4 separate regions of the Homo sapiens genome follow, and all the other regions are reported to be linked to region 1. The links are microRNA targets in miRTarBase. Many come from high-throughput screens and were not tested one by one. Region 1 holds a microRNA gene; each other region holds the end of a gene's coding sequence. Distances are from middle to middle.
The links. The annotated mature microRNA hsa-miR-632 reads GUGUCUGCUUCCUGUGGGA and lies in region 1 at 3,905-3,923, opposite strand. An mRNA with a match to its seed (bases 2 to 7 or 8) in the 3' UTR can be bound and repressed. Matches are read on the target gene's strand: a 7mer-m8 pairs with bases 2 to 8, a 7mer-A1 pairs with bases 2 to 7 and ends in A, and an 8mer does both.

Region 2: miRTarBase lists DERL2 as a target of hsa-miR-632. Seed matches in the 3' UTR shown: 7mer-A1 at 2,269-2,275.
Region 3: miRTarBase lists FAIM2 as a target of hsa-miR-632. Seed matches in the 3' UTR shown: 7mer-A1 at 7,172-7,178.
Region 4: the mRNA of IFNGR2 is a reported target of hsa-miR-632. Seed matches in the 3' UTR shown: 7mer-m8 at 3,582-3,588.

Annotation. Positions count from the first base shown.
Region 1 is chr17:32,345,691-32,354,091 of GRCh38, reverse strand. MIR632 (microRNA 632) reads right to left here and starts at 3,983; the gene lies at 3,890-3,983. It overlaps ZNF207 (zinc finger protein 207), which reads right to left and starts at 3,935. Exons shown (of 12, transcript NM_001098507.2): 1 at 3,766-3,935; 2 at 2,180-2,306. The coding sequence starts at 3,806. It also overlaps a transcript of C17orf75 not described here. RefSeq lists enhancers at 1,169-1,678, 3,846-4,195, 4,366-4,485 and a silencer at 7,494-7,675.
Region 2 is chr17:5,467,892-5,476,292 of GRCh38, reverse strand. DERL2 (derlin 2) reads left to right here. Exons shown (of 7, transcript NM_016041.5): 7 at 1,504-5,039. The coding sequence ends at 1,609. DHX33 (DEAH-box helicase 33) reads left to right here and starts at 7,311. Exons shown (of 12, transcript NM_020162.4): 1 at 7,311-7,722. The coding sequence starts at 7,434. It overlaps DHX33-DT (DHX33 divergent transcript), which reads right to left and starts at 7,201. Exons shown (of 3, transcript NR_135644.1): 1 at 7,154-7,201; 2 at 6,299-6,379; 3 at 5,933-6,201. RefSeq lists enhancers at 7,218-7,287, 7,668-7,887, 7,677-8,259.
Region 3 is chr12:49,867,216-49,875,616 of GRCh38, reverse strand. FAIM2 (Fas apoptotic inhibitory molecule 2) reads left to right here. Exons shown (of 12, transcript NM_012306.4): 12 at 4,964-8,401. The coding sequence ends at 5,113. Among named protein-coding and RNA genes, the nearest start is that of BCDIN3D, 28 kb to the right of the region's middle.
Region 4 is chr21:33,436,675-33,440,674 of GRCh38, reverse strand. IFNGR2 (interferon gamma receptor 2) reads right to left here. Exons shown (of 7, transcript NM_005534.4): 7 at 3,159-3,847. The coding sequence ends at 3,713. It also overlaps a transcript of TMEM50B not described here. Among named protein-coding and RNA genes, the nearest start is that of IFNGR2, 35 kb to the right of the region's middle.

The DNA of each region.
Region 1 (8,401 bases):
AGGTGGAAGGATCATTTGAGTAAGGGAGTTCAAAGTTGCGGTGAGCTATGATCTGCACTCCAGCCTGGACAACAGAATGAGACCCTGTCAATCAATCAAAACAAAATGTTCTTATCCACACTACCCAATATAAGTTAGCTACTTGACAGAGAAACTGAGCATTTAGATATTTATATCATTTTAAATAGCCACATGTAACTAATGGCTGCAACAGTGAACAGCTGTGAGTCTAACATGTAGTAGGTTCTCTAACAATTTTTTTTTTTTTTTTTTTTTTTTTGGAGACAGAGTCTCTGTCACCCAGGCTGGAGTGCAGTGGCACAAACTCAGCTCACCGCAAACTCTGCCTCCCGGGTTCAAGTGATTCTCCTGTCTCAGCACCCGCCTCGCGCCCCCCGCCCCCAGCCCTCCCCCCGCCCCCGTAGCCAGGACTACATGTGCCTGCCACCATGCCCAGCTAATTTTTGGTATTTGTAGAGATGGGGTTTCACCACGTTGGTCAGGCTGGTCTTGAAACCCTGACCTCAGGTGATCCACCAGCCTCGGCCTCCCAAAGTGCTGGGATTACAGGCGTGAGCCACCACATCTGGTCAACATTTTAAAATGAATATTAAATTATTGTTAAAGTATCTGGAGTGAAAAGGATCTATATAAATTTATCTTTAAACCTGGAGAAATCACGTCTCCCTACCTCCCACCCATAGTAGTTTCCAATGATTTGGTATTTGCTCATCTCATATTTCTGTAAGGTCTAATTTAGCAAAAATTCAGACAGCTCTAGGACTAAGCAAAGTAGAATAATGTTGAATGAGACATGAAGGTACTTACTAGATCTTAAAAAATATAAATTACAATGCTCTCGCTATTTATTAAAAGAACTTTAAAAACCTAGAAATTATTGTCATTATTATTATTATTGAGACAGAGTCTCACCCTGTTGCCCAGGCTGGAATGCAGTGGCACCATCTCAGCTCACTGCAACCTCTGCCTCCAGGGTTCAAATGATTCTCTTGCCTCAGCCTCCCCAGTAGCCAGGATTACAGGCCCATGCCACCACACCCGGCTAATTTTTGTATCTTTAGTAGAGATGGGGTTTCACCATGTTGGTCAGGCTGTCTTGAACTCCTGACCTTGTGATCCGCCCACCTTGGCCTCCCAAAGCGCTGGGATTACAGGCGTGAGCCACCGCGCCCAGCCGAAACCTAGAAATTATTAAATGAAATACAATTCTGGGCTGGCACAATGGCTCATGCCCATAATCCCAGGGCTTTGGGAGAACGAGGCAGGAAGACGGCTAGAACCCAGGAATATGAGGCTGCAGTGAGCCATAACCATGTCACTGCAATCCAGCCTGGGCCACAGAGCAAGGCCATCTCTTAAAAACAAAAGCAAAAAGTACAATGCTGCCATTCCAAAAGAAGTCCAATAAATAAATTGCTGAAATTAGCCTAGCCCCAAGCTACAGATAATAACAGATCCTTCAATGGCAGTGAGTAATGACTGCTAATTAAGTATTAATTCTTAAGGCCAGACCACCTACAAAATCTAAATCGCTGATCCTTGTTCTCTGCTCCAAGTACTCAGGAAATATTTAGTGATTTCGATATGTTACCAATCTAACCTAGTAAGGTACTATCAAACTAAATACAAATACAAACCCTCTTTAAACATAAAAAGCCAGTTTTGTTTATTGTCTTGATGGCTATCGAACAAATTTTTTGTTTTTTTTAATGCTGATTGGCTATCTTATCTTTTGCAGTAAGTAAGTGAACAAAAAAAAAACAAAACTACAGTTGTCAGAGAAATAAATGATTATTCTTTCGGCCAGGCGCGGTGGCTCACGCCTGTAATCCCAGCACTCTGGGAGGCCCAGGTGGGTGGATCACCTGAGGTCAGGAGTTCGAGACCAGCCTGGCCAACATGGTGAAACCCCAGTCTCTACTAAAAATACAAAAAATTAGCCGGGCATGGTGGCGGCTGCCTGTAGTCCCAACTACTCCGGAGGCTGAGGCAGAAGAATAGCTTGAACCCGAGAGGCAGAGGTTGCAGTGGGCCGAGATTGCACCACTGCACTCCAGCTTGGGCGACAAGACCGAAACTCAAAAAAATAAAAAAGATTATTCTTTCAAGTTGTTTCCAAATCACAAGCGGACAATAAATACAGAAGAAAAATCCTTACCTGCATGCAATGAATAGCTAAGCCAGGTCCTGTATACAATTTCTTGTGACATATATGGCATTTAAAATGCTTTGCTTTTTGGTGCTGAATAAGGATCTTCTCATCATCAAAATCTCTATTACAATACCTGATCAATACTGTTAAGGCACAAAGACAGCCTAATGATGACACTGCCTATAATAAAAACATATGGATAACATTACAATATGGGAACAGCTAAAACCAAAATGGTACTGTATAGAAACTCTGCTTTTTATATTTATTACACAATTAGGGACTACACTTGCCATGTTATTTCAGTATTTTCAATTTCCTAGAAGGCCAGCTCTCTTCACCACCCCAAAAAACACATCTCAATAATCAGCAATATACTTTGTCAAATTCCTGTGTTTAACAGAGATGTCGGTGAAACTTTTGTTATAAATATTTCAACATTTACAAATGCACACTGAGGACAGGAAAGAGTTCAGTTAAGAAATCCCTAAGGTTCTGTCAAGACAATTACTTCACTAGATATGAAGACGATAGCAATAACTGGATTAGGAATTTAGCAATATTTAGAATCTAAGAGTAACTATATGGTGAACAATAATCACATAATTTCGAATGAACAATCCATAAAGTTGTTTCCAATTCCGTATGAATTTATGTTGCCAAGCAATGTATTTAAATTCACAGATCAATAAAATCAATAAAGCAGAATTCTTACATCAATAAAACAGAATTCTTACCTCACTACTCAGATTTTCCTAAAATCACATTACAAAATTCGTAACCGTATTTAAGCTATTTTTAAAACTGTTACATAAACGCAGTACTGTAACAAGCCGCCTTTACGTACAAAACAGTAAATAAAATCAATTTTAATGTAAAGAATATTAACGCTTCCAGAAAAAGCATTAATACCACACTGTAGTAAGAGTTTTCCTAATAAGATAGGCACTTTTTAGTCCTACAAAGTTGGGTAACAGAAACTCCGCCCTGTGAGAACGCTTCCTGAAGATTAAGGCGCCTCTGGGTGAGACACGGAAGCTAGTTCTCCTCCCGCCCCGAAAAGAAAAAAAAAAAAAAAAAGGTTCGAAACCAGGGTTGACTAACTTGGTTCTTTACTAAACCGCCAATTCGAAAAAATAAACACAAAACACACATAAAGTAAATAAAAACAGAAAAAGTGGGTGACAGACTGTGAAGCTGTCCCCAACCCTCCATGAAAGTAATAAGCCTATCGCACTCGAAGAAAAGTCCCTTGTTGAATCGTCACCAAAACAACGGAAGGTGGCTGAATAGTCCCTAGGGGACACTGTCCCTGGCGGAGGGGTCCAGGCCGCCTCCCGGAGTCCAAAATTCGCACCGAACAAGATCCTCCTGAGTCACAGAGTCACACGACCCACAACTGCAAAAGCCTGTCGACCTCGGAACCCCATTTTCCTAGAAGCCTTCCCAAGTCCAATCCCAGCCACCAGGCCACCCACGCAGACGCCTAAATACAAACGCTCCACGCCGTAAGCCAAATCCAGGCCTCCTAGTCCCAGGCCCCAACAACCGGCACCCCAACGCGACCTCGACTTCAAACCGACAAAGGATACCAGCACCACGGCTTCAGCTGCTTCTTCTTCTTGCGACCCATAACTGTGTTCTACCGGCAAAGTAAAAGGGAGGAGAAAAGAAGCAGGAGAAACGAGGCCAAAAATCCCTCACTTTCCCAACCCAACGGCTACCACCACGTCCCACAGGAAGCAGACACAAAATGGCCGACGGCCTCGTTCCCCGCTCCGCCTCCCGTCAAGCACTGCGGTAGGAGGCGGAGCCAAGAAGGGGAGGGTCACATGACGCAGACCTCCGCCCTGAGTGGGTGGGACTAAGAGGCGCGAAGAGGTGGCAGCCATCTTGTCCGTTTCAGAGTTTTTCGCTTTCGCTGGCTGTGCTTGCGGAGCACTTTGGGTTTCATTTGTAAAGGAGCCGGAGCCCCAGGTACGCTAAGGGGCATGCGAATGGAAAACAGAAAACAAAAAAACGGAAAAGATTGCCAGTGCAGTTAGGGCCGATCACAAATAAAGATAGAGACAGCGCCCAATTTTAATTTTGTTTCAATTGAACAGTAAATGTTGATTATGTGCCTATTAAATGCTAAACCAAATAAGTTAGTCTCTGCTTTGTAACTCGCAGATTGGTGACAGACGAGTACACAATGCAGAGTTCTCAGTGCGGCGTTGAGGGAAATGCGAAGTGCTGTAGGACCTCAGAGAGCGGGAGTCCTAGGGCGGCTGTAGTGGTAGTGGTCGTTGGGTTGTCAAGTAAAGTTTTGTTTTTCTTTGTTTTGTTTTATTTTTCTGAGACCAAGTCTCGCTCTGTCTCCCAGGCTGGAGTGCAGCGGCGCGATCTCTGCTCACTGCAACCTCCGTCTCCCGGGTTCAAGCGATTCTCCTACCTCAGCCTCCCGAGTAGCTGGGACTGCAGGCCCGCGCCACCAAGCCCGGCTAATTTTTGTATTTTTAGTAGAATGGGGTTTCACCATGTTAGCGAGGCTGGTCTCGAACTCCTGGGCTCAAGTGATCCGCCCGCCTCGGCCTCCCAAAGTGCTGGATTGCAGGCTTGAGCCGCTGCGCCCGACATAAGAAAGGTTTCTTGAGGAGTCAACGGGAGCAAGCAAGGTGAAGGAAAGGGTATCTCCGTAAGGGAGCAAAGAGTTTAAGTCTTTGAGGCTGGGCACGTGAAAAACTAATCGTGGTAAGACTGGAGCTGATAGCCGGGCGCGGTTGCTCACGCCAGTAATCCCAACACTATGGGCCAAGGCCGAGGCAGGCGGATCACTTGAGGTCAGGAGTTCGAGACCAGCCTGGCCGACATGGTGAAACCCTGTCTCTACTAAAAATACAAAAATTAGCCAGGCGTAGTGGCAGGCGCCTGTAACCTCAGCTACTCGGGAGAATGAGGCAGGAGAATCACTTGGACCTGGGAGGTGAAGGTTGCAGTGAGCCGAGATCTCGCCATTGCATTCCAGCCTGGGTGACAGAGTGAGACTCCGTCTCAAAAAAAAAAAAAAAAGACTGGAGCTGTCAGTGAAGGTGCTGGTCACAAGAGATAATCCTAGGGAGGCTAGCAAAGGCGGGTTCTGGCGAACCCTAGAAGCATTCTCAGAAGTTGGATTTCAGCTGAAGTCTCTGAGAAGGCACAGTGGTTCTAAGAGGGCAACTGGAGGATCATGCAAGTGAGAGGTGGTTAAAAGTCCAGTGCTTGGGTTCATAGTCCACCAGTGCCACTGCTTAGCTGCCTGACTTTGGGCAAGGCAGTTAAACTTCATCTTGGCTGCACTTAAAACAGAGCTTAGCATATAATAATAACTAGTAATGTAAATTATGTTACTATTAAAAGCAAAAAATAATAGCAGACATCCATGGAGCACCTACCGTGTGCCAAGCATTGTAGTGAGTTTTAACATTATTTGTCTCAGCCTCTGGGGTAGGAGCCATTATTGTCAACTTGTTAATAGAGATGAGATAAAAGAGACTTAAGAGAGCTGGAATAATTTGCCCCAAAACACAAAGTATGTGTGGAGCTGAATTAAATTTGAATTTTAAAGGATCAGTTTGGGCTGTGCGCAGTGGCTCACACCTGTAATCCCAGCACTGTGGGAGGCTGAGGCGGGTGGATCACCTGAGATCAGGAGTTGAAGACCAGCCTGGCCAACATGGTGAAACCCGGTCTTTACTAAAAATACCAAAAAAAAATTAGCCAGGCGTGGTGGGGCACGCCTGTAATCCCAGCTACTCCGGAGGCTGAGGCAGGAGAATCGCTTGAACCCGGGAGGCGGAGGCTGCAGTGAGCCGAGATCACTCTGCTGCACTCCAGTCCGGGCGACAGAGCAAGACTCTGTCTCAAAAAGAAAAAAAAAAAAAAAGTTCAGGCTGGGTGCAGTTGCTCAAGCCTGTAATTGCCGTGCTTTGGGAGACTGAGGCAAGAGGGTGGCTTGAGGCCAGGAGTGTGAGACCAACCTGGGCACCATAGTGAGACCATCTCTATGAAAAAATAAATTGAAAAATGAAAAAGTTTAAAACCGTATTGCAATGTGCTGAATATCCCCCCAACTGCTTGAAACGTAATCACCAATGTGATAGCATTAAGAGTTGGGACCTTTAGCAGGTGATTAAATCATGAGTAAACTGGGTGGGGGGGGATTAGTGATTTTATTAAAGTGCTGGAAGGAACTAAACTCTACTCTCTCTTGCCTCAACCAAATGAGGATGCAGCAAGAATGCCCTCATCAGACACTGAGTATTAGTGCCTTGATCTTGGATTTCCAAATTTCCAGACTATAAGAAAATATAATTCAGTGGGTGTGGTGGTGGCTCACCCCTGTAATCCCAACACTTTGGGAGGCTGAGGTAGGTGGATCACCTGAGGTCAGGAGTTCGAGACCAGCCTGGCCAACATGATGAAACCCTGTCTCTACTAAAAAATACAAAAAAAATAGCTGAGTGTGGTGGCGGGCGCCTGTAATCCCAGCTACTCTGGAGGCTGAGGCAGGAGAATCACTTGAACCCAGGAGGCGGAGGTTGTAGTGAGCCGAGATTGCGCCATTGCACTCCAGCCTGTGCAATAAGAGTGAAACTCCATCTCGGGGGAAAAAAAAGAAAGAAAAGAAATAAAATTCTGGCCAGGTGTGGTGGCTCATGCCTGTAATCCCAGCACTTTGGGAGGCCGATGTGGGTTGATCACCTGAGATCAAGAGTTCGAGACCAGCCTTGCCAACATGGCAAAATCCTGTCTCTACTGAAAATACAAAAATTAGCTGGGCATTGTGGTGGGTGCCTGTCATCCCAGCTACTCAGGAGGCTGAGACAGTAGAACCCAGGCTGAGGCTTGAACCTGGCAGGTGGAGGTTGCAGTGAGCTGAGATTGTGCCACTGTACTCCAGCCTTGGTGTCAGAGTGAGACTCCAGCTCCAAAAAAAAAAAGAAAGAAAGAAATACAATTCTGTTATTCATAAATTCCCCAGTCTGTGGTGTTTGTTACAGCACCATAAACAGATTAAAACACTTTTACTATGAAAGCAATAAGCAATAAAATATTGCTGTTAGTTGGGAGGCTTAGGCAGGCGGATCACCTGAGGTCAAGAGATTGAGACCATCCTGGCCAACATGGTGAAACCCTGTCTCTGCTAAAAATACAAAAATTAGCTGGGCCTAGTGGCGTGTGCCTGTAGTTCCAGCTACTCGGGAGGCTGAGGCAGGAGAATCGCTTGAACCTGGGAGGCAGAGGTTGCAGTGAGCCGAGATCGTGCCACTGCACTCCAGCCTGGCAACAGAGCGAGACTGCGTCTCAAAAAAAAACAAAAAAAAATTGCTGTTAGAAATTAAAGAAGGCCTGGTGCGCTAGCCCATTCCTGTAATCCCAGTACCTTGGGAGGCTGAGGTGGGAGAATCACTTGAAGCCAGAAGTTTAAGGCGAGCCTGGGCAACAAAGCAATATCCTGTCTCTATGAAAAAATTAAAAATTAGCTGGGTTTCGGTGGCCCAGGCTGGTAGTGTGCAGTGGTGCAATCGTAGCACACTGCAGCCTTGATCTCCTGGGCTCAATGGATCCTCCCACCTCAGCCCACGGAGTAGCAGGGACTACAGGGCCATGCCACCATGCCTTGCTAATTTTTGTGTTTTTTGTAGAGGTAAGGTCTCGCTTTGTTGTCCAGGCTGGTCTTGAACTCCTGGGCTCAAGTGATCCTCCTGCCTTAGCTTCTAAGTGTTAAGATTAACAAGCGTGAGCCACCATGCTGTGCCTCTCGTTGTAGTGAGTTTATAGATAAGCAAGGGGAGGAGGCTAGAATGATCCATGCGGCCATGGATTAGAGCTGGAGACACCAGAATGAACTCGTGTTTATTTTAAAATAGATACATAGAGAAATATTTATGGATATGTGTATATACTAAAGTTAGTATAGATACATATATCAGCTGAGAGGGCCTAGAAGCAATAATGTCCCATATCAAGCATACTTTGTCCAGAGATCTTGGTTTGTAATACCATTCTCCAGTAAAAGCAACCTGAGGTCCTTGGAGAAATGGTTGATTCGGACCAGGCACGGTGGCTCATGCCTGTAATCCCAGCACTTTGGGAAGCCGAAGAGGGCAGATCACGAGGTCAGGAGTTCAAGACCAGCCTGACGAACATGGGGATTCTGCTGCCTCAGACTCCCGAGTAGCTGGGACTACAGGCATGCGCCACCAC
Region 2 (8,401 bases), 27 Mb from region 1:
AGTTTTCAGATACATTTCTAATTTTATCAACTGTGGAGGATTACAAGTAGAAATATAAGTGCAAATTGAGGATGCTGCTTTAATGGTTCCTTCTTTAGTGAGGTTTTGAATTACTACATCATAGTACTTAGGGAGTCTTTTGGACATTTACTATCCCCTCCTATGTTCTGCAGTAATTTTTCTTGGGATACCTTGTTAATTTTTTAAAAATTTTGTGGTAAAATAATACCTAACATAAAATTCACCATCTTAACTCATTTTAAATGTTCAGTGGCATTAAGTATATTCATACTGTTTTGCTGCCATCACCACCATCCATAGAACTCTCTTCATCCTACAGAACTACAACTCTGTACTCATTAAACAACTCCCCACCCCAGCCATCACCATTCTATTTTCTTTCTCTGAATTTGACTACTCTGTACCTAAGTGGAATCATACAATATTTGTCCTTTTTTGTCTGGCTTATTTCTTATTTCATTTAGCGTAAAGTCCTCAAGGTTCATCCATGTTGTACCATGTGCCTGAATTTCCTTCCTTTTTTTTGAGACAGTCTTGCTCTGTCGCCCAGGCTGGAGTGCAATGGAGCAGTCTCAGCTCACTGTAACCTGTGCCTCCCAGGTTCAAGTGATTCTTCTGCCTCAGCCGCCTGAGTAGTAGCTGGGATTACAGGCATGCGCCACCACGCCAGGCTAATTTTTGTATTTTTGGTGGAGACAGGGTTTCACCATGTTGACTAGGTGCAGTGGCTCATGCCTGTAATCCCAGCATTTTGGGAAGCCGAGGCAGGCAGATCACCTGAGTTCAGGAGTTCGAGACCAGTCTGGCCAACATGATGAAAACCTTCCCTCCTAAAAATACAAAAATCAGCCGGGCGTGGTGGCGGGCGCCTGTAATCCCAGCTACTCGGGAGGCTGAGGCAGGAGAATTGCTTGAATCCGGGAGGCGGAGGTTGCAGTGAGCCGAGATCGCACCATGGCACTCCAGCCTGGGCGACAGAGTGAGACTCCCGTCTCAAAAAAAAAAAAAAAAAATTCTATTATATGTGTGTACCGTATTTTGTTTATTCACCTGTTGATGCACACTTGGGTGATACCTTGGTTATGGGGAAACATTAATGATAAATATGTGAAAGTCAGGTTACAAAACATGTAGTGTGATCTAACTTTTGTAAAATGACATAATGTAAAAATTCCCAAAGAATAACTAAAACATTGACAATAGTTACCTCTGGAAATTGAGGATATTTTGCTCATCTCTATTTCCTCCTTCTCTGTAATTATTATGATTTGGATTGCTTTTGTAGTAAAAATCAGTAAAAGATAAAAGCTAATGTAAATGTTAATAATTATAGATGCTCTTACAATATGTTAACTGTTTAATTGGCAGGCAGGTGTAATGCTTACCTATTGGTGGAAACCCTATGGGGCCTGAACTGACCTTGTAGTACTTTGGACCTGAGATGACTCTGGGACCAAATTATATCTGTTGCTTGTCTTTTAGGAAAGCTATTTTTGATACACCAGATGAGGATCCAAATTACAATCCACTACCTGAGGAACGGCCAGGAGGCTTCGCCTGGGGTGAGGGCCAGCGGCTTGGAGGTTAAAGCAGCAGTGCCAATAATGAGACCCAGCTGGGAAGGACTCGGTGATACCCACTGGGATCTTTTATCCTTTGTTGCAAAAGTGTGGACACTTTTGACAGCTTGGCAGATTTTAACTCCAGAAGCACTTTATGAAATGGTACACTGACTAATCCAGAAGACATTTCCAACAGTTTGCCAGTGGTTCCTCACTACACTGGTACTGAAAGTGTAATTTCTTAGAGCCAAAAAACTGGAGAAACAAATATCCTGCCACCTCTAACAAGTACATGAGTACTTGATTTTTATGGTATAAGGCAGAGCCTTTTCTTCCTCTTCTTGATAGATGAGGCCATGGTGTAAATGGAAGTTTCAGAGAGGACAAAATAAAACGGAATTCCATTTTTCTCTCACTGTATTAAAGCTTTTGTGTGTGATCTTTTAAATTCTGATAATGTATTGTAGCCCTCCTGCGTAGATCTGAGCTCAGAACAGTTTACACAGCTGTTCTTCCTGTGTCTTCACAACTTTTAACTGGATTTCATTTCAGGATTGGAAATACGTGGCTGTCATGCTGTGGTTGTGTACATCTTACTAACTCAGAATGCAAGATTCAGCAGGAAGATGATTTATTTCTGTCATCTGGATAGGTTGTTTTGCATCTGGGTTTTGCCAAACTTTGTCAGACAACATGAAAAAAAAGGAGGGAGGATGGTTCTTGTAGCAGTAGGAATTCAGCTATAGGAAAGTCAGCTGTAAGCTAATGTGGCATCTTATTTGCTTTACTTACATTTCTCCATTAAGAAGTATCCAGGGAAAGATTGGTAAGGGCCACATTTTTGTAAAACTAGGAAGATTTTCATTAGACTTTTTTTTTCTTTTATTTTTAAAAAAGTTTTAATTAAAAATTTTTTTTTAAATACAGATGGGGTCTCACTGTGTTGCCCAGGCTGGTCTTGAACTCCTGGACTCAAGCAATCCTCCCACCTCAGCCTCCCAAAGTGCTAGGATGACAGGCATGAGCCACCATGCCCAGCCATTTTTTTTTTTTTTGCCTTTTTTGTTTTGTTTTGTTTTTTGTTTTTTTAATTAAAAAAAAAAAATAGAGACAGGGTCTCAGATTTTCATTAGATTTGGAAACCAAGTTAGAATGTTGACTTTGGAGCCAGACGAACAGATACCAGTTAGCTAGGCATATGTTCTTCCAGGGTCTTTGGCTAGTTAACATTAGTCATTTGCTTCGTGAAAATTCAAGAACCTTTTCAGAGCCAAGTACCTGGATTACCTTCCCAATCAGGTAGAAATTAGACAGGGTCCACAGAAGTAGACACTTAATGCTGTGGTTCAATAAATACTTCCCCTAAATATTAAGTCTTCCCTGAGTCTCAGCAGGTTTGCATTCACACTGCTTAAGTAACTTCCAGAACCTGGAAGAGTCGAAAGAGCACCCCTAGGAAAGAGATGATTCCAAACAGCTTTCATTAACGGCATGTAGGCACAGGTCCCTTTCCCAAAAGTGGATTGTTAGTAGTAGTTCATTCAACCTTTGTTAAGGGGTAGCTTTCCAGAATGTGACATTGTCCTCAGAAAGATAGACATAGGCTTAAACATAATGGACATCCTAAATAGGAATTTTCAGATTGTTTTTGAAGTGAAAAGTGTTTTAATGTCTTTAAATGGAATTGCATAACTAATGGTATTTAAGTATTTTACATGTTGCTAATAACTTTGAATATGATTGTTGCAATTTTATGGAACCTGGGTCTATGGGACTGCTTTTTAAGCAGTTTAAAAAAGGTTTTCAAAGTTTAAAAGCCAATCTTAGCATGTATAATCCTTATGGGATTCTTAAGTTTTATCCTATCTTGTTTTTGCTCAAGAACGCTTTATCAGTGACGTTTGTTAGAATTTTGTTTTTTGTTTTTTTTTTTTAAATTGTTTTTGGGCTAGAAATGAGTTTCTCTAGTTTTATTTGTTCTCCCTGAGTTGGAGTTATGCAATGAATGGCATTTTTGTGGTAAAATACTAATCCTAAAATCTGTTAACTCACTGTTCATTTAAGTAGGGAATATCTGTATACATTAATGACTAGGTAAAACAGGAAATACATTTTGAATATACAGCCTAAAGGCAGGCAGTTACAGGGTTTTTGATTTCTCCGATTTTATAGGGTGCAAGTTCCCAGTGGCAGGATGCCCTGCTGTGTGACTGACTACACTGTGTCCTGAGCAGTGGTAATTTCAATCACCTCTCATCAGTTTGGCCAGCCCTACAACCACCATTCCTAGCCCTGTGTTGCTTGACAGGATACCTGTGCTTGAATGGACATAAGGAAAAGTCCTTACTTTCTCCCCAATTTACCTCTCAATCTTAGTTCTTCCAGAACACACTTCCCTTTCACAATGCAAATAAACTGAAAGTGAGATTTGATACATGGAATTTTGAGACCAACCAACTAACCTTACACATAATTTGAGGGATTCCTGGATTCTTCTAGTGATACTGAAAAGCACACTTGACTAAAGCATAGTGTTTTTTGTTTGTTATGGAAATACGGTATACGTTCATTTAAAAATAAATGGACATACAAATTGCATCTCCTTAGGAGATACATTTTATATACATTTCGGTGCGTTTTTTTCCAGTATGGATTTCTATTTGTTTCTCTCTTCCTCTTGTTTTTTCTGTGTCACTCTTGTATGTCCTCATATCTTTCATACCTCTTGTGTAGTCTCTAGAAGCAGAACACCTAAGTCCTGGGTCTGGATAATGAAACCCTCAGTCTCTGGGGCCTCTGAAAATAAGGAAGCATTGGAGCTATTGCCATGTTGAGTAATGGGCTTCCTAGAACTATTGTCATCTATCCTGCCAGTGTTTTATGTTGTAGCTGTTTTTCTTTGACAGGTGAGTTCCAGCTATGTTGTTAGTCATGATCCTGCCATTATTTTCTGTGTTCTGTAGGATGTCTCCAGGCTACTTAAACATATTTTATGAGTTTGCAATAAAATTGTTGAATCTTGTATGATCAAGTCACTCCTCTGCTCAGAAATCCACAGTGACTTCTTAGTAAGCCCCTACATTATATGCATACTTGTTTTTTTCTTAACTTTACTCCCACTTCTACCTAACAGGGACCTCAACTTAAGTCTCTTCAGTTCTTCAAGGCCTGGCCTTGTTCCTGATTCCTCAAAAAATCTTGACTCTAAGGCCTATTTTATTGTCTGTCTCTGAATCCCTATAAAGCTTCAAGTCTGTATGACATTCTTAACGCCAAATTATATATTGTCTTGTACTGTTCCTAGCTGGTACATGTATATTAGTCTTGTCTCCCTCATGAGAATGTAAGCTCCTTAAGGGCAGGGACCATGTCTTAATTTTTGTATCCACCACAGTGCCTAGCACAGTGCTTGGCACATGGGTGCTGAATAAATACCTTTGTTTATTGATCAGCAAAGTATTATCTGGTATTTTTAATTATAGAGGGATTAAAGTGTATGCATGCAAGCTTGAGCCTAGTTGCTGAAGCTTGTGGTTGTCTCTGAAAGTGGGATAGAGGGAAACTGAACATGATCAAGGGCAGTAATTTGGTGGTCGGAAAAGCAAAGGTGACCACCAGCTGTTATGGTCGTGATCAGACCAGTTAAGTCCACAGACCATCCCAGACAAGTTAAAAATGAAATGTGTCTGACACTTCGTCGTTTGAAGGAAGAACCAGGATATTCTCTGAATAGTTATTAGCTTGTCAGTATCTACATATGAAAGCTGGTGAACCCCAAGAGACTTCTTCAGGAGAAACAGCAGATTTCAGTCTACCAATGGGAGAAATGTGAGCAGCATGGCTTGATGCATATATAGGACTTAATTTTTCCACTCTTTGGTCCTCTTAGCTTTGAGGCTATAGAATAGCTGGATCATTAGGCCAGAGATTATGGATGAGTTACCTACAGATTTGTTACCTACCTATGTGCTTTGTTTTGACAGTACTTTTTTTTTTTTTAAGTTTAAACCTGTATTTAACATTGACAGATAAAAATCTTCACTTTTGGCTTTTCTTGAGAAAATTGGAAGATCTGGCAATAATAGGTCTACATGACAGCCATTGCCTAGAAATGATTAGGGGCTGCATGTAGAGGTGGAATGTGCTCCATCAAGAAATAAGTCCACCCATTTACATTACCTAAATTATTGTAATCATTTGGAACATCGGACTCCTACCTTAAGTTACTCTGGAAAGCACACTGGGAAAAAGGACTGGGATGTCTTTACTCAAAGTCCATAATTTGAGAGTTAACATTTATTATCCCTTGTAGTTTTGGGTTGCCTTTCTAAATATTTCAGGGTAGGAAGTGAAAATTTGTCAGTTTATTCTTAAACACAAATCTGCTGCTGGTTCAACGTGCACATTTTCAGTAATGCCTGGTCACCAAACTGTCAGCAACTAGAGGAAAATTATCTCCGACCTGGAGCAAAGGGGAGGTTTTTTGTTTTTAGACTAGCTCTCTCACGAATCACGGGAAGGGAGATATTTAACAGGGCGAGTTTCATGGAAACGAGCTTCAGAAGATACCCTTCACATGAGCTGAAGCTTACGGTGTATTCTCTGGAAATCACATTTCCTGTAAGAGCAAACAGCTACTTGGCATTCTCCGTGGTAAATTAGCAAATCATCTAAGAACTTTTAGGAGGGTAAGGAAGAACTAGTTATAATCCTACTTTTTTCTGCTGCAGTTCTGAATCTTCACTGAAGTGTCTGTGATGGGGTTGCACAGCCATGTAGAGAACTTGAGAGTCTGGCTGGAATGGTTGGGGGAAAGGAAAGATAAAAGACAATTTTAATTTCATTGAACTCCCTCCTTTCTCTGCTTGTATTACTGGAGGCGACCACATCCGTTGGAGGAGTCATTTTCTGAGTTAAATTCATGTATATCAGAATTGGTTTTCCTTTCTGTAACACAAGATGATCACAAAATTATGATTTGGGGACATCTGAATGACTAAGATGACTCAATTTCTTAATCTGTAAATTAGAGATAATCTAATAACCAGTATATACCACATAACTTATAAGTTGTTTAGAGGATTAGACAATGCACGTTTGCGCTTCTCATTGATTTTACAGAATTAAGTACTTTCCTTGAAGAGTGACTGTTATTTGGACAGAGAAGGGGAAAACGCGGGTTTACTGAAAAGAAGTAATGCTACTAGAACAAAACAATGGGCGGGGCGCGGTGGCTCACGCCTATAATCCCAGCACTTTGGGAGGCCGAGGCAGGCGGATCACCTGAGGTCGGGAGTTCAAGACCAGCCTGACCAACATGGAGAAACCCTGTCTCTACTAAAAATACAAAATTAGACGGGCCCCGGTGGCGCACGCCTGTAACCCCAGCTACTTGGGAGGCTGAGGCAGGAGAATCGCTTGAACCCAGGAGGCGGAGGTTGCAGTGTGAGCCGAGATCGCGCCATTGCACTCCAGCCTGGGCAACAAGAGCGAAACTCCATCTCAAAAAAAAAAAATAAAACAATGAGAAAAACCTCGTTAACCAAGACTACAGTCCCACGGAACCTTACATCCTGTGTTTCCCGGTTGTAGCTCCGGGCCTTTTCCTGGTTGTACCTCAGGCCCTGCTTTTCCCACCCCCAGGAAGTGAAAGCCTTCCCAAGCCCCCAAGGCATGCTGGGAGATGCAGTCCCTTTTTCTAAAGACTGGGGCGGCCGTGAGGTCATCGGTGGTCGCCGGGAGCCGCCAGCACGTGGCGGCGAGGAAGGGGCGGTGTGCTCCTGTTGTCTGCACCTGAGAGGGGGCAGGAGCTCTCGGCGCTTGCGCCTCCCGCCGCGGTGCCCTCCCGACATGCCGGAGGAGGCGGGCTTCCCGCCGGCCAAGAGATTCCGGCCAGGCTCTGGACCTCCGAGCCGCGCTGGGTCCTTCCCTCCCGGGAGGCAAGTGGTGATGCTGCTGACTGCGGGCAGCGGCGGCAGAGGAGGAGGAGGAGGCCGGAGGCAGCAGCCGCCCCTGGCCCAGCCCTCGGCCAGTCCCTACCCTGAAGCTGTGGAGCTGCAGCGCCGGAGTCTGCCCATCTTCCAAGCGCGGGGGCAACTGTTGGCCCAGCTCCGAAACCTGGACAACGCGGTCCTCATCGGTGAGTGGCCGCGCCGGCGGGCTCTTCCTTGCACTTCGTCCGTGGCTTAGCTAGAGCAGTTTTTCTTACATGCCTCTCAATCCCTTTCGTTCGTGGCTTCAACAAACCTGAATACCTTTTCTGGGCCAGACCTGGAGAGGGGCCTCGAAGAAGAGTCCGGCAGCCCTGCCCTGGAGGCGCTGGACAGCCCGGTGAGAGTGACCAACGTGTGTAGGCAAAGACTCACCTTCCGCGTAAAAGGGTAGAGAAACGTACCGGGGGCTTGCGGATCTTAGAAGAGTGGATCTGACCCGGTTTGTGAGGAGGCGGCTGGGGAGGTCGTGTGGGAGGGAGGGCATTCTAGGCAGGGGGGAAAGCCCGTTTGAGAGATGGGAACCTGAACACATTCCGGTCGAAAGGGAAGGTGTAGTTTCTGGTGCATGAAAAGAGGCAGAGTTGTGGGGCAGGGACTGATTTCATGGGGCTTATGATCCCCAACGTGTTAGAGGAGATACTGAAGGACGGAAAGGATGAGCAGCCAAAGAGAGGAAGGAGACCCATGAGTGCTGCTAGTCAAAGGAATAGAGAGTGAGCAGATGCAGCAGTCAAGTCCGGTTATACTGGACTTGGATGTGATGCCCACTGGATTTGGATGTGAGCTATTTGTAAGAGTTAAAGAAAAAGGAAAGAAACACGAAAC
Region 3 (8,401 bases), not on the chromosome of region 1:
GGCTTTTTGATTCGAATGCCTGCCAGACCCTGTTCCTTTGGTGGCCCTCCTGGGGGTGCAAATGTTGTCTGTGCCATCTAAATTTTTGACATCCAGGTCAGTGGAGAGAAGTATCTTCTATTGGTATCAGGCAAGAAATGGGCCCCAGATCTCCACTCAGTGGTCTCTCTTCACTCCCTCACCCCCTCACCCTCTCCTGCAGCCCAGTCGGCGCACCTGGACATATGGCTGGTAGTCTCTTCTCCAGAGACTCCCCAAAGCCCAAGCTCACCCTCTAGCTGTCCCTGGGCTGGGTGATGCGGGCAAGTCACTTACACTGTCTCTGCCTCAGTGTCCTTAGCAAATGGTGGAGCTGATAGTGCGACACCTGCCGCAGAGGCTTATGGTGAGAATTCAGTGAAAGAGTTCACGAACTCTTCTTTTGTGCTATTTTAACCCTTCTATTTTAAACTTCTAATTATATAATATGTGAATACATTTATTCACATATTTCACTTTTGGAAAATCTTAAATATAGAAAAAAGCAAATGTCACTTTGATCGTGTCCCTCACTGCTTTCCCCAGCAGGAACCATGAATTATCTCTCCTTCCAGACCTTTCTTTATGCATTTCATAGATATTTGCTATGTGCGCTCCTCTGACGTGTATAGTTTTATGGGATCATACGATATAGATTTTTCACAACTTGCTTTTTTCTCACAGTAGCGTCTGTCACAGATGTTTCCACCTCAGCACTGCTGCCCAGAGTTTATTTAACCACCCCCGTGTTGGTAGAGTTTGGGTTGTTTCAGCATCTCACTGTTAGAACCAATGCTGTAAACAACAGCCTGGGGGTTGCCTCCACACGCCCTCACACTGGCATTTATGCAGGACAGACACAGTCCACGTGGCACTGTTTATGCTGATACAACACATTGCAACCCCAGCTTTTTGTATTCAGTGCCTGCCTGCGGGTGGCTCTGAGCTGGCCTTTCCATGGCATGCACTGCCCAGAGCCCCTCAGCGTCACCTCTGGGGCCACATTCAGGGAGGACAACGGACATAAGCCTGGGCCCCAGATATGGCAGGGTCAGGCCAAATGTGTGGCTGGGGTCCCCGGCCAGGTTTAGCACTGGCCAGTAAAGTGAGGCGGGGAAGTTTGCCTTTGGCACCTGTGCCCTCTGCACATGCTCCCTCCCTCCCTGCAAGCCCACTCCTCCCCTATCTCCACCAGCATAGGAGACGGCACTCGATAAGCAGCCATCAGCAAGTCACTCAGCTCTCAGACTCCTTTCCTCATGTAAGACCATGAGGACGCCCACCTCCCAGGGCAAATGGGGAGAGGGAGATGAGATCAAGTGTTGGTCTGGGGAAGGACTCTTCAGATGTAAGTTAATAGCGTCCTTGTCCCAGGGGGCCTCCTGCCCCATCCCATGTGCTCCTCCTGCAGAGTCTCCTGTTCAGCTGAACACTAACTCAAGTACCTGCCCTCCTTTTAGGGGTTTGCAGTCAATTCGGTTGCTAGCTCTCAGCCAAGATCCTAGCTACCCACTAAGATGTTAACTATAACCAAGATACCTGCTCTCAACCAAGACATTAGTTAACAATGCTTTCCATCTCCAAGGAGATAGCAGCAGATGACTTTCCCCTGTAAATCAATGCACTGCCATGCAGAATCTCTGATCATGTCTTTTGCCCTCATTAGACTGTCAGTTCTATGAGGGCAAGTTCTCTGGAATATAGTAGGTGCTCAGCAAATATTGTTGGGAATAAATCGATGAAAAGACTTTGTTTGACTCACAGGCATCAGGTGGCAGTGATGGGTCATACTGGTCAGTGGGGTTGAAATTTGAAGCAGGCCATCCCAGAGAACACCACATAGATAAGCATCTGTGGCTATGGACCAAGGGCTGGGGCAGAAATCATTTCATTCCTCTTCTCTCCAAGAGAAAAGCCAGCTGGCTGCTCTAGGGGGTCTCCTGCGTGGGTGCTTCTCAGAAGGGCCACCCCCAGAGCTGGACAGATCCAAGCCTTCCAAGTTAAGAGACTCCATTTCATTAGCTCACCCAGGGGTGACCAGGCTCTGGGAAACCAACCAAGCAAGCTACTGATTGAACAGCCAGATCAGCAGTTTATGAACTGATGCTGGCAGCTGTGACTGCCAAGTGGCCCAAAGCATTTGCACTGGGCCTTCTGCTTGCTCATTCTCTCTGCAGAAGGAAAATGTGCTTGGGAATCCAAATCAAACACAGAAGGAGCAGAGCGGAATGGAGAGAAATCATACTCAAAAATACAAATAGTGGATGCCACATACACTGTCATAAATCTACCCTCAAAACCACACCGTGGTGTGGGCATTGCTACTATCCCACTTTGTAGATGAGGACACTGAGGTCAAGTGGATGACTTGGCTACTGAGCAATGGAGCCGGGTCTCAAACCCAGGCATTTCAACTCCTGTTCCTGTCTGGAGTGCCCTTCCCTCAGTGCCACTGAGCTCAGGAGACTGACGCACCCCGTGCAGGGCTCCTCTCAGCCCTGGCCATGGCTCCCCATTTTCGCTGTGTTAAGGCCACTCAGCTCCCCAAGGAACAGTGCTGCCTCCCTGATGAGATGCAAGAGACACCTGAGTCTCATCAGTAGCACGTGCATGTCCTCAAGAGGGCACCTCTCCTTCTGCAGATAATAACAATGAAACCACATTAATATAATAGCAAGCATTCATTAAGTGCTTACTATGTGTCAGGCACCACGCCAGGCCCCTTGCATGCATTATCTCATTCTCACAACAACCTCAGGAGGCAGGCACGCTCATCTCCCTTTTACACATAGGGACTCACAGGCCTAGAGAGATTAAATGCTCTGCCCAGGTCCTACAGCTAATGAGTGGTAGAGCAGAGCCTGCAGTCCAAGTGGATCTGACTTTCAAGCCTGTGCTCATAATTGCCCCCACCTCCTCACCTTTGACGGTGGCCCTGCCTCAATGTCCCATGTGCTGGAATTGCTCCCTGTTGGAGCCCTGGCCTCTTGGGCCTGCCGGGGGGAGCATTGCACCAGGGCTGGGATTCGACTAGGATTCTACAGGGCTGCGTCTATAGCAACTCTAAAGTCTGGGTCTTGGGAGACAAGGAGTCCATGGCGGAGGTGAAGGAAAGGGAACTGGGCATGACCCCTGTCTACCAAGCAGAGTGCAAGCTGCAAGGGCAAGCCCCAATCCCTTCCTCCTCTATCCACTTCTCCCATAGTTCCTGCCTCACCGAGTTCCCCACTCTTCACACAACACCAGTCAGGCCTCCCAGGCTTCCCTAGGCCTTCCCAGCTAGCAAACTCCTACTTAAGCCTCAGGTGAAATGCCACCTCTCCTGGGTCACCTTCCTCTGGCCCAATTAGTAGCTCCTTCCTTCATAGTCCTAATTGTGCATTTCCTGGGTTTTCTTGTAATGACCTATAAGTGTCCCCCATGACGCTGCGAGCTTCCCCAAGGCAGGCACGGCTTTGTGTTTCTCGTCTCTTTTGCTCTTAGCAAGTCCCTGTCATGCAGCTGTTGCCCCATACATATTTATTGTATGATGAATGAGTTTCAGAGGACCCAGGGAACATGCCTTTCATACACAAGTGACTGAAGAGCCCAGTTAACAAGAATGTGAATCAATGTAAAAGAATTCTAATCCCGGGCTGGGCCTGGTGGCTCATGCCTGTAACCCCAGCACTTTGAGAGGCCGAGGCGGGCAGATCACCTGAGGTTGGGAGTTCAGGACCAGCCTGACCAACATGGAGAAAACCCGTCTCTGCTAAAAATACAAAATTAGCTGGGTGTGGTGGCACATGCCTGTAATCCTAGCTCCTCGGGAGGCTGAGGCAGGAGAATCGCTTGAGCCTGGGAGGTGGAGGTTGCAGTGAGCTGAGATCACGCCATTGCACTCCGACCTGGGCAACAAGAGCGAAACTCTGTCTCAAAAAAAAAAAAAAGAAAAGAAAAGAAAAGAAAAAAAATTCCAATCCCACGTGGATCAGTGCTTCATCACCTTTGAGATACTGGTGGACTTTTTGGCCTCTTTCTCCAGAAAAGCGCACCACGCCTGCCAAATTTCATATGCTACTTAAGGGTTCTGCTCTTTAGGCTTGGAGCCCAGAGGAAAGCTACATGGCAAAGGGTAGGAGCCACTGTATACAGTGGGCAGGCCTGGCAGGGGCAGGGGGGTGACACAGCGCTGTCTCAGAGGGAATCTGTTCCTAGTCCATTAGGCCAAGCAGGGCCCCAGGGAAGAGCCTGTTTCCTGGGAGGAAAGGCATTAACCCCGGGTGCTGTTAGCAGCAGGGCAGAATGTTTACACCTGGGGCTCCGAAGCCGGCCTGCTCAGGTTGAAATCTTGGCTTTGCCACTTTCCAGCTGTGTAACCTTTAGCTAATATTTAAGGTCTCTGGGCCTCGCTTCCTGTAGGAAGAATCGGATTCTTATTTGATGGGGATGTCGGTAGCACTGATGGGCTGTCAGTACAGCACAAGTGCCCGGGCCCTGCTTGTACCTGAAGCGTTTGCCTTCCTCTGAGAGCAGGGTCCGGAGGGAATGGCAAGAAGACTAGGCCTCAGCTTGAAGGTCCCCTCTCCCAGGAAGCCTTCCCTAACTTCCTGCCACACTCACATAGGTGAGGCTCCTTGTTATCAGCCCCACTGCTGCCTGGAACCTTGTTATACTCATCATCCTAACAATTACTTCCTCTAGACTCTAAGCTCTGTGAGGACAGGGATCCCGGCTGTCTTGTTCTCTGCTGTATCCCTGTGCCTAGCACATAGCAGGTGCTCAGTAAATAGCTGCTGAATAGAATTAGGGACAGAAGGTGTCACAGGAGGGCCACTGGGTAGTCAGGCAGCTGGTGAGGGTAATAAAATTGGGGGTGGGGCTGAGGGGGACACCTGGGCTGCCATAGTCAGTGTCACACTGCCTGGGCCTCTGACCTCTCTCTCTCTCTCCTCACTTCTCCCAGTTCCTGGCACTTGACACCCAGTTGCTGATGGGTAACCGACGCCACTCGCTGAGCCCTGAGGAGTATATTTTTGGAGCCCTCAACATTTACCTAGACATCATCTATATCTTCACCTTCTTCCTGCAGCTTTTTGGCACTAACCGAGAATGAGGAGCCCTCCCTGCCCCACCGTCCTCCAGAGAATGCGCCCCTCCTGGTTCCCTGTCCCTCCCCTGCGCTCCTGCGAGACCAGATATAAAACTAGCTGCCAACCCAGCCTGTGGCCAGGTCACTGTCTACCCCAGCCCAGCCCAGCCCTCTGCCGCTTGTACATACGCCATGGGGACCCTGAGGAACTGAGGCCACGTCAATCCCTGTGCCGCCCCATTCGCCCGTTACATCTTCCAAACTGGGACGGTCAAGGCTGAAGGCTCCTCTGGGTTTGAGGGTCCAAGGGACAAGGAGGAGAAGCCTAGCAGGATTTCAGATGCAGGAGAGAGACCCAGGAAGCCCGGCAGAGCCCTGAGCCCCACTGCAATTCCTCCTAGGGCTGCACAATCATGTGGCCTTAGGGCACACTGTCCTGCATCCAGTCTGTGTCCTCCTGTCTTTCTCATCCAGGTCAGGCATTGACACTTTGTAAGAAAGGGGGTAGGGGACACAGCTGGGCAGGTGGAGTGGGTGGGCAGGATGGCTGTCCCAGTCTGCCCATCTTCTCTTGGCTCTGGGACCAGCGGCTTGTTCTAGGGATTTGGACCTGGAGGCCAAGGGCAATAGGAGAGGGTCTGAAGCCTGTGCTGTCTGCTGCTTGCTGTGAATGGCCCTCCCGGGTCATGACAGAGCTCTTTTGGGGCAGGAGGTGAGGGCAGGGGGCCCCGCTCCTTGGTAAGGGCCTGCCCTGGGGCTCCCAGGGAAGTGGGAGCTGGGGAGCCAATCCACCCAGACCCGCGTCCACCTGGGAGGCATTTGGGGTTGCAGGACCGAGACCCACATCCTCTCACTCACTTCTCCACCCGCCAGGCAGCTGCCACAGGCCTAAGGCTGAGTGAGGTGTGATTGGGCCCTCCGGCTGGATGTTCTGGGGGAGGAGGCAATCGCTGTAGCTGCCAGGCCAGCCCCATCTGGAAGGAGTCCCTGCTCTGCCTCAGCCCTAACCCGAGGCTGTGTGGGAGTCCCTTCTGCACCTCTTATTTCCTAAACCCTTCCTGTCAGCTGCTGTTTGCTGGCTCGTCCCCAGCCAGGCCTCCTGAGGTCTTCATAGTTGGCACAGTCCACATCTCTTCTAGCTTCACTGGCCACTCACTCAGCCCAGAGTCCCTAAGTGCTCCCCCACTTATCTCTGCATCTCTCCAATTTGGAAGCCATCCAGCTGATGCTAACAGCCAGGGCCAGTCCCTCCAGCTGGTCCCATGTAATGAGGCCAGGGCTCCTTATCAGCTTCCAGGCGGCTGGGATCTCAGGCAGGGTGTGCGTCAGCCCTCCAACCCCCAGAGGGGCGCCTGTGGGGAGGGAACCAGGAGGCCACACTGGGGGAGCGTGCAGCCAGCATGTGCAGTGGCCAACTCCAGGCCAGTGGAAAGTTACTGTGTGGATACAGGAAGGCTCTGAGTGGCTAGCAGGACCCTCCCTTGGCTTCGCCCTCCTCCTCTTCTCTCTCCCCTGTGCTGGGAGCTCCGTCTGCCTTGGGAAGGGAGACGAGGTGTGCTGTTCCTTCCCAGCCCCATCCCTCCCCACCCTTCCTACTCCCAGCTTTCAAGAAACATTGCAGAAGCATTTGAAGTTTTGTTCCATCTTGGATATTTGAAGAGAAAAGGAGCCAAGAACTGGCGGGTGGTGTGTGTGCAGCAAAGGCATTGGGGGCACGGGTGAGATGCCCACTGTGTGCTGGTCTAAATTAATCCATCGCAGTGATCCTCCAGAGACAGCGCTCTGCTCATGTCCGTAGCAGAGGGAAAAGCCGAGGTGCTCAGAAAGGCTCGGTAATGAGTCCCAGGTCATACGGCTAGCGAGTGGCGGGCCTGGGGTTCAGACCCACAGCTGCCTCAAGCAAACAGGGTATCACGCTTGCCCCTGGGCCTGGGTGGGGGCCGGAATGAGACCACATGAGAGCGCAGAGAGGTGGGTGGTCAGGCCCTGATGTCCTGGGGATTTCTTGTCCTCAGTGCCACCCGGCCTCCCGTCTTTCCTGAAACCCCTCGCCAGATTTTGCACTCTGAGGTTTCTATCTTCCAGACAAGAGCTGGGAGGCAAGATTTCTGGTTTCTGGTTCCTAGCCTCACTGCCAGCGGGCTCCTGCTATTAGGTGAGGGTTTCTTGCTGTCTGGAATTCAGTTTTTCCATCTGCCACATGGAAGTTCATAGCCAGGATAGGGCGGGAGAGGCACCAGAACATTTCTCTCCACTGACTTTCTCACCCGGTTCCCACCCTCCTCCACCTCCTCTCCTCCGGGCCCCTCAGTTTCCTCTCCTCATCTCTGGCCTCAGTTCCAGAGGGTTAGCCCCAGCACCCCACTCTCCTGCCACTGTCAGATAGCCTTGGTCATGCTTCCTAGAATCTACTTGTCCAAGTTCTCCTCTCCCTGGGATAAGTTACTGCAGAAACTGGGGATTTAGAAGCTTATTCAGGGCTGAGTGCCAAAAGCTTGGGGGAGGAGGGACAGGTCCTCGGCAATAAACAGTGTCACACACGCATCACAGCCATTTGAGAAATGGCTTCTTTGCAGAGCTGGGGAAGCCGGGCAGAAGATGCCGCAGCCTCCTACTCTGGGTCCTGAGGGGGGGTGGCAGGTACCACAGTGTAGGCAGCAGGGTCAGGGCCAAAGTCTATGCGTTCCATCTCCAATCCAGGCAGTGAGGAATCCTGAAACACCAGGAGAGGCGTCAGAAGTAGGAAGGGCAGGGGAACAGGAATGCAAGATTAAGGAAACCGCAGCTGAGCAGGTGTCACAAGCTGTAAAGGAGGAAGGGAGTCTGCAGGCCCTTCACATTTTTGGCCTGGGTGGGGCTGGGCCCAGGAAGGGGTGGGCTGGATTTTGTAAAGCTGGAGGCAGCCAGGAATCTGACTGTCCGGAATGTGAGTTGAGGGGTCTCCCACTGAAGTCCTCTTCTGGAAGCTGCAGATGGGGGCCCGGGAGGCACACACGAGTCTGGGACTCATTCCCGGGCACACCTATGGCTCCTTCGGTATCACCTGGGGAAGCCCCGGAATCTTAGTTCTTCCATTCCCTACTCTTCCTTCCGAGGGAGTCAGGATGGGACAGACACCCATTTTCCAAAAGGCTCCTTGCCTCCTTCCCTGGCCCACCTGAAGCCAAGTCCCAGGTGTCCTGGCTGCTCTCCTGGGCGGGGTGGGATTTTTGCATAAGCACTTTGCTGCCCTCCAGTGGCTGCTTGAGGAAACGCAGGGCCTGGTTTGGGAGAGTCACCGAGGGCCCATGTGGCTGGAGGTTGGGGGCAGGA
Region 4 (4,000 bases), not on the chromosome of region 1:
CCTGACCTCATGATCCCTCCTGCCTCAGCCTCCCAAAGTTCTGGGATTACAAGCGTGAGCCCCCGCACCCGGCCTATTTTATTATTATTTTTGAGACAGAGTCTCGCTCTGTCACCAGGCATGCAGTGGCACGATCTCTGCTCACTGCAACCTCTGCATCCCAGGTTCAAGCAATTCCCTTCGCTCAGCCTCCTGAGTAGCTGGGATTACAGGCATGCACCACCATGCCCAGCTAATTTTTGTATTTTTAGTAGAGACGGTGTTTCACCATGTTGGTCAGGCTGGTCTCAAACTCCTGGCCTCAAATGATCCGCCCACCTCAGCCTCCCAAAGTGCTGGGATTACAGGTGTGAACCACTACACGCAGCTTACCTTCTGGGTTCTAATAAATATTTATGAACAGTGAAATTTGAATATCATAGAATTTTCATGTGTGATGAAATATTCTTCTTTTGACTTTAACTATTCCAAGATGTAAAAGCTATTCTTAGCACACGGGTTTTACAAAAACAGGGAATGGGCTGATTTGGCAAGTAGGTTATGGATTATGCCCTGTCAACGGATTATTTATAAGAGTGCTTCCAACTCAAAAATTTTGACAATGTACTTAGCTTGACTTTATTTTTCTTGAGACAGAGTCTTGCTCTGTTGCCCAGGCTGGAGTGCAGAGGTGCCATGTCAGCTCACTGCAACCTCCGCTTCTCGGGCTCAAGTGATTCTCCTGCCTCAGCTTCCCAAGTAGCTGGGATTACAGGTGTGAGCCACCACGCCCAGCTAATTTTTGTATTTTTAATAGAAACAGGTTTTCGCCATGTTGACCAGGCTTGTCTCAAACTCCTGACCTCATGATCCACCCACCTCAGGGTCTCAAAGTGCTCGGATTACAGGTGTGAGCCACTGCGCCTGGCCTTGACAGTGTAAATACTAATCCCATCAATTAGTCATTTATTTTACTAAGGAGAATGAGGCATTTCATTTCAGAAAATACTATTTAAGGCTGGGCACAGTGGCTCACACCTGTAATCCCAGCACTTTGGGAGGCTGAGGTGAGCGGATCACCTGAGGTCAGGAGTTTGAGACCAGCCTGACCAACATAGTGAAACCCCATCTCTACTAAAAATACAAAAATTAGCTGGGTGTGGTGGCGCACATCTGTAATCCCAGCTACTCTGGAGGCTGAGGCACAAAAATCGCTTGAACCCGGAAGGCAGAGGTTGCAGTGAAGTGAGATTGTGCCACTGCGCTCCAGCCTGGGCAACAGGGTGAGACTGTGTCTCTAAATAAATAAATGGGGTGGCACAGATGCACTTACCCTAACAGAGTTGATTTGCCCTCTGTCCTGCTGGGCTGAAACTCTTTCCTGTTCTCCTGCTATAGATGTATCCTCCACTCCTCGCTGGCCACCATCCTGCTGCCCAACAGAAGAAGCTCTTCTGTCTCCGATTTCCTGAACGGTCTAAGGTAAGTCTTTACAACTCCTATCTACAACTTCTTCCTCCAAACTTGTCTACTTAAGGTGCACCTAATGCATACAACAGATGCTTCACAGGGAGACTTGTGTGCATGGGGTGGGAGTGGGCCTTGTTTTTCTAACTCTTGCCACTGCAGACAGCATGGTACACAACACTTAAGAGAGTTAGCCACTTTTGCCGGACACGGTGGCTCACGCCTGTGATCTCAACCCTTTGGGAGACCAAGGTGGGTGGATCATGAGGTCAGGAGTTCGAGACCAGCCTGGCCAACATGGTGAAACCCCATCTCTACTAAAAATACAAAAATTAGCCAGGCATAGTGGTGCACGCCTGTAATCCCAGCTATTCGGGAGGCTGAGGCAGGAGAATTGCTTGAACCTGGGAGGTGGAGGTTGCAGCGAGCTGAGATCGCGCCACTGCGCTCCAGCCTGGGCGACAGAGTGAGACTCTGTCTCAAAAGAAAAAAAAAAAGCCACTTTCTTACCAGCAGTACAGGGCCCCAACTGCCTCCCATGTAGCTGGGATTATAGGTGCCTGCCACCACACTCAGCTAATTTTTGTGCTTTTAGTGGAGACAGGCTTTCACCATGTTGGCCAGGCTGGTCTCGAACTCCTGACCTCAGGTGATCTGCCTGCCTCGGCCTCCCAAAGTGCTGGGATTACAGGTGTGAGCCACCGTGCCCAGCCTATAAATGGATTTTAAATACATATCCTTTGAACAACAGAGCCCGACAGTACTGACACAATCAGATGACTTGCGTGCTCAGTAGATAACATTACTATTGATTAATCAGTTAATTCTCTTTATTGCCCACAAATCCCTGCCTTGGTCAACACAGTGTGACTTGTCACATATAAATGAAGTGCTAATGTGCCTTCTGCAAATCCCCCTTATAACTTTTATATTTTTGAGACAGGGTCTCTTGCTCTGTTGCCAAGGCTGGAATGTAGTGGTGTAATCATTGCTCACTGCAGCCTTGAACTCCTAACTCCTAGGCTCAAATGATCCTCTGGTCTCAGCCTCCTGAGTAGCTGGGACTACGGGTGTGCACCACCACGACTAGCTAATTTTTTATTTTTTGTGAAAACAAGGTCTCACTATGTTGCCCAGGCTGTTCTCAAACTCCTGGCCTCAAGCGATCCTCCCATCTTGACCTCCCAAAGTGCTGGGATTACAGGCATGAGCCACCATGCCCAGCCCTCTTTTTTTTTTTTTTTTTGAGATAGGGTCTCGCTCTGCCTCCCACGCTGGAGTGCAGTGGCATCATTTCGGCTCATGGTAACCTCCGCCTCCCAGGCTAAAGCATCCTCCCACTTTAGCCTCTCAAGTAGCTGGGACTACAGGTGCATGTCATCATGCCTGGATAATTTTTGCATTTTTCATAGAGACAGGGTTTCACCATGTTGCCCAGGTGGGTCTAGAACTCCTGGCCTCAAGTGATCCACCCACCTCAGCCTCCCAAAGTGCTGGGATTATAGGCGTGGGCCACTGCACTAGGCCCTGGCCTTCTTTATAACCTTTGGAGGATCAAGTGACATCCATAGGAAGTGTTTGCTGAGTTCCCATGAGGCCTCAGTAGCTCTAGCAGGTGTTATTTAAGAAAAAACAAGTTTAGATTGAGTAATTTTAGAAAGCTGAAACTCTGCAGAAAATAGGCTACAATAAAGAAAACACTTCACATAGACTTTAAAAAACATGCACTATACAATCTTTTATTTCCAGTTTAAAAACAAAATCTTAAATTACTAGGAGTATATTTACAAGATTAATTACATTTTAAGCCAGCACACCATGGATGTACATGAAGGGCCACTCGGTGTCCCTCGCTGGGACAGGTTGTGTGACCTGCCCAAGGGGCTCCGGCTCATTTGCCAAAGTCAAGACGACGACCAGGTCTTCTGACTGCTCAGCCCAACCAATAATGAAAAAAGTATCAGAGATGTGTCATATCCATTTTGCTAACAAGCAATTACATGCCTTTTTAGTGTTTAAGAGAAGCCTTAATTTTCCTGGGATATCTCCGTAAAATCATTCTGGAATTTGATTTTGAAAATTCTTTAAGAAAAAAAAAAAAAGCTTGTCACCCCCATGAGACCTGCTGTCTCTCATGTCTGCAGGGACAGGCCTTTTAGAGGCAGCAAAAGGGAATACTGGTCTCTGGAAAGTCCAGACAGAACTCTAGCAGCTCCGATGGCTTGATCTCTTCCAGGGAGCCAGTGGGCTAGGCCCATGCTTTGGTTCAAAGCGTTTGGAGAACATCTTCTTGCTCCTTTTCCGGAAACGAGATAATGGACACAGAGTCCCAGACGTCATCCTTTGGTGAGCTGTCCTTGTCCAAGGCCTCTAAGATGGGCTGAGTTGGGTCTTTTAAATACTTGAGGAGGTTGGAAAGCAAAATTGTAATTAGTTTACCAGTTCAGTATACCAGACCTTTTAACTTTAGTTTTTGTTTTTATTTTATTTTTATTTTTATTTTTTTTTTGAGATGGAGTCTTACTCTTGCCTAGGCTGGAGTATAGTGGTGTGA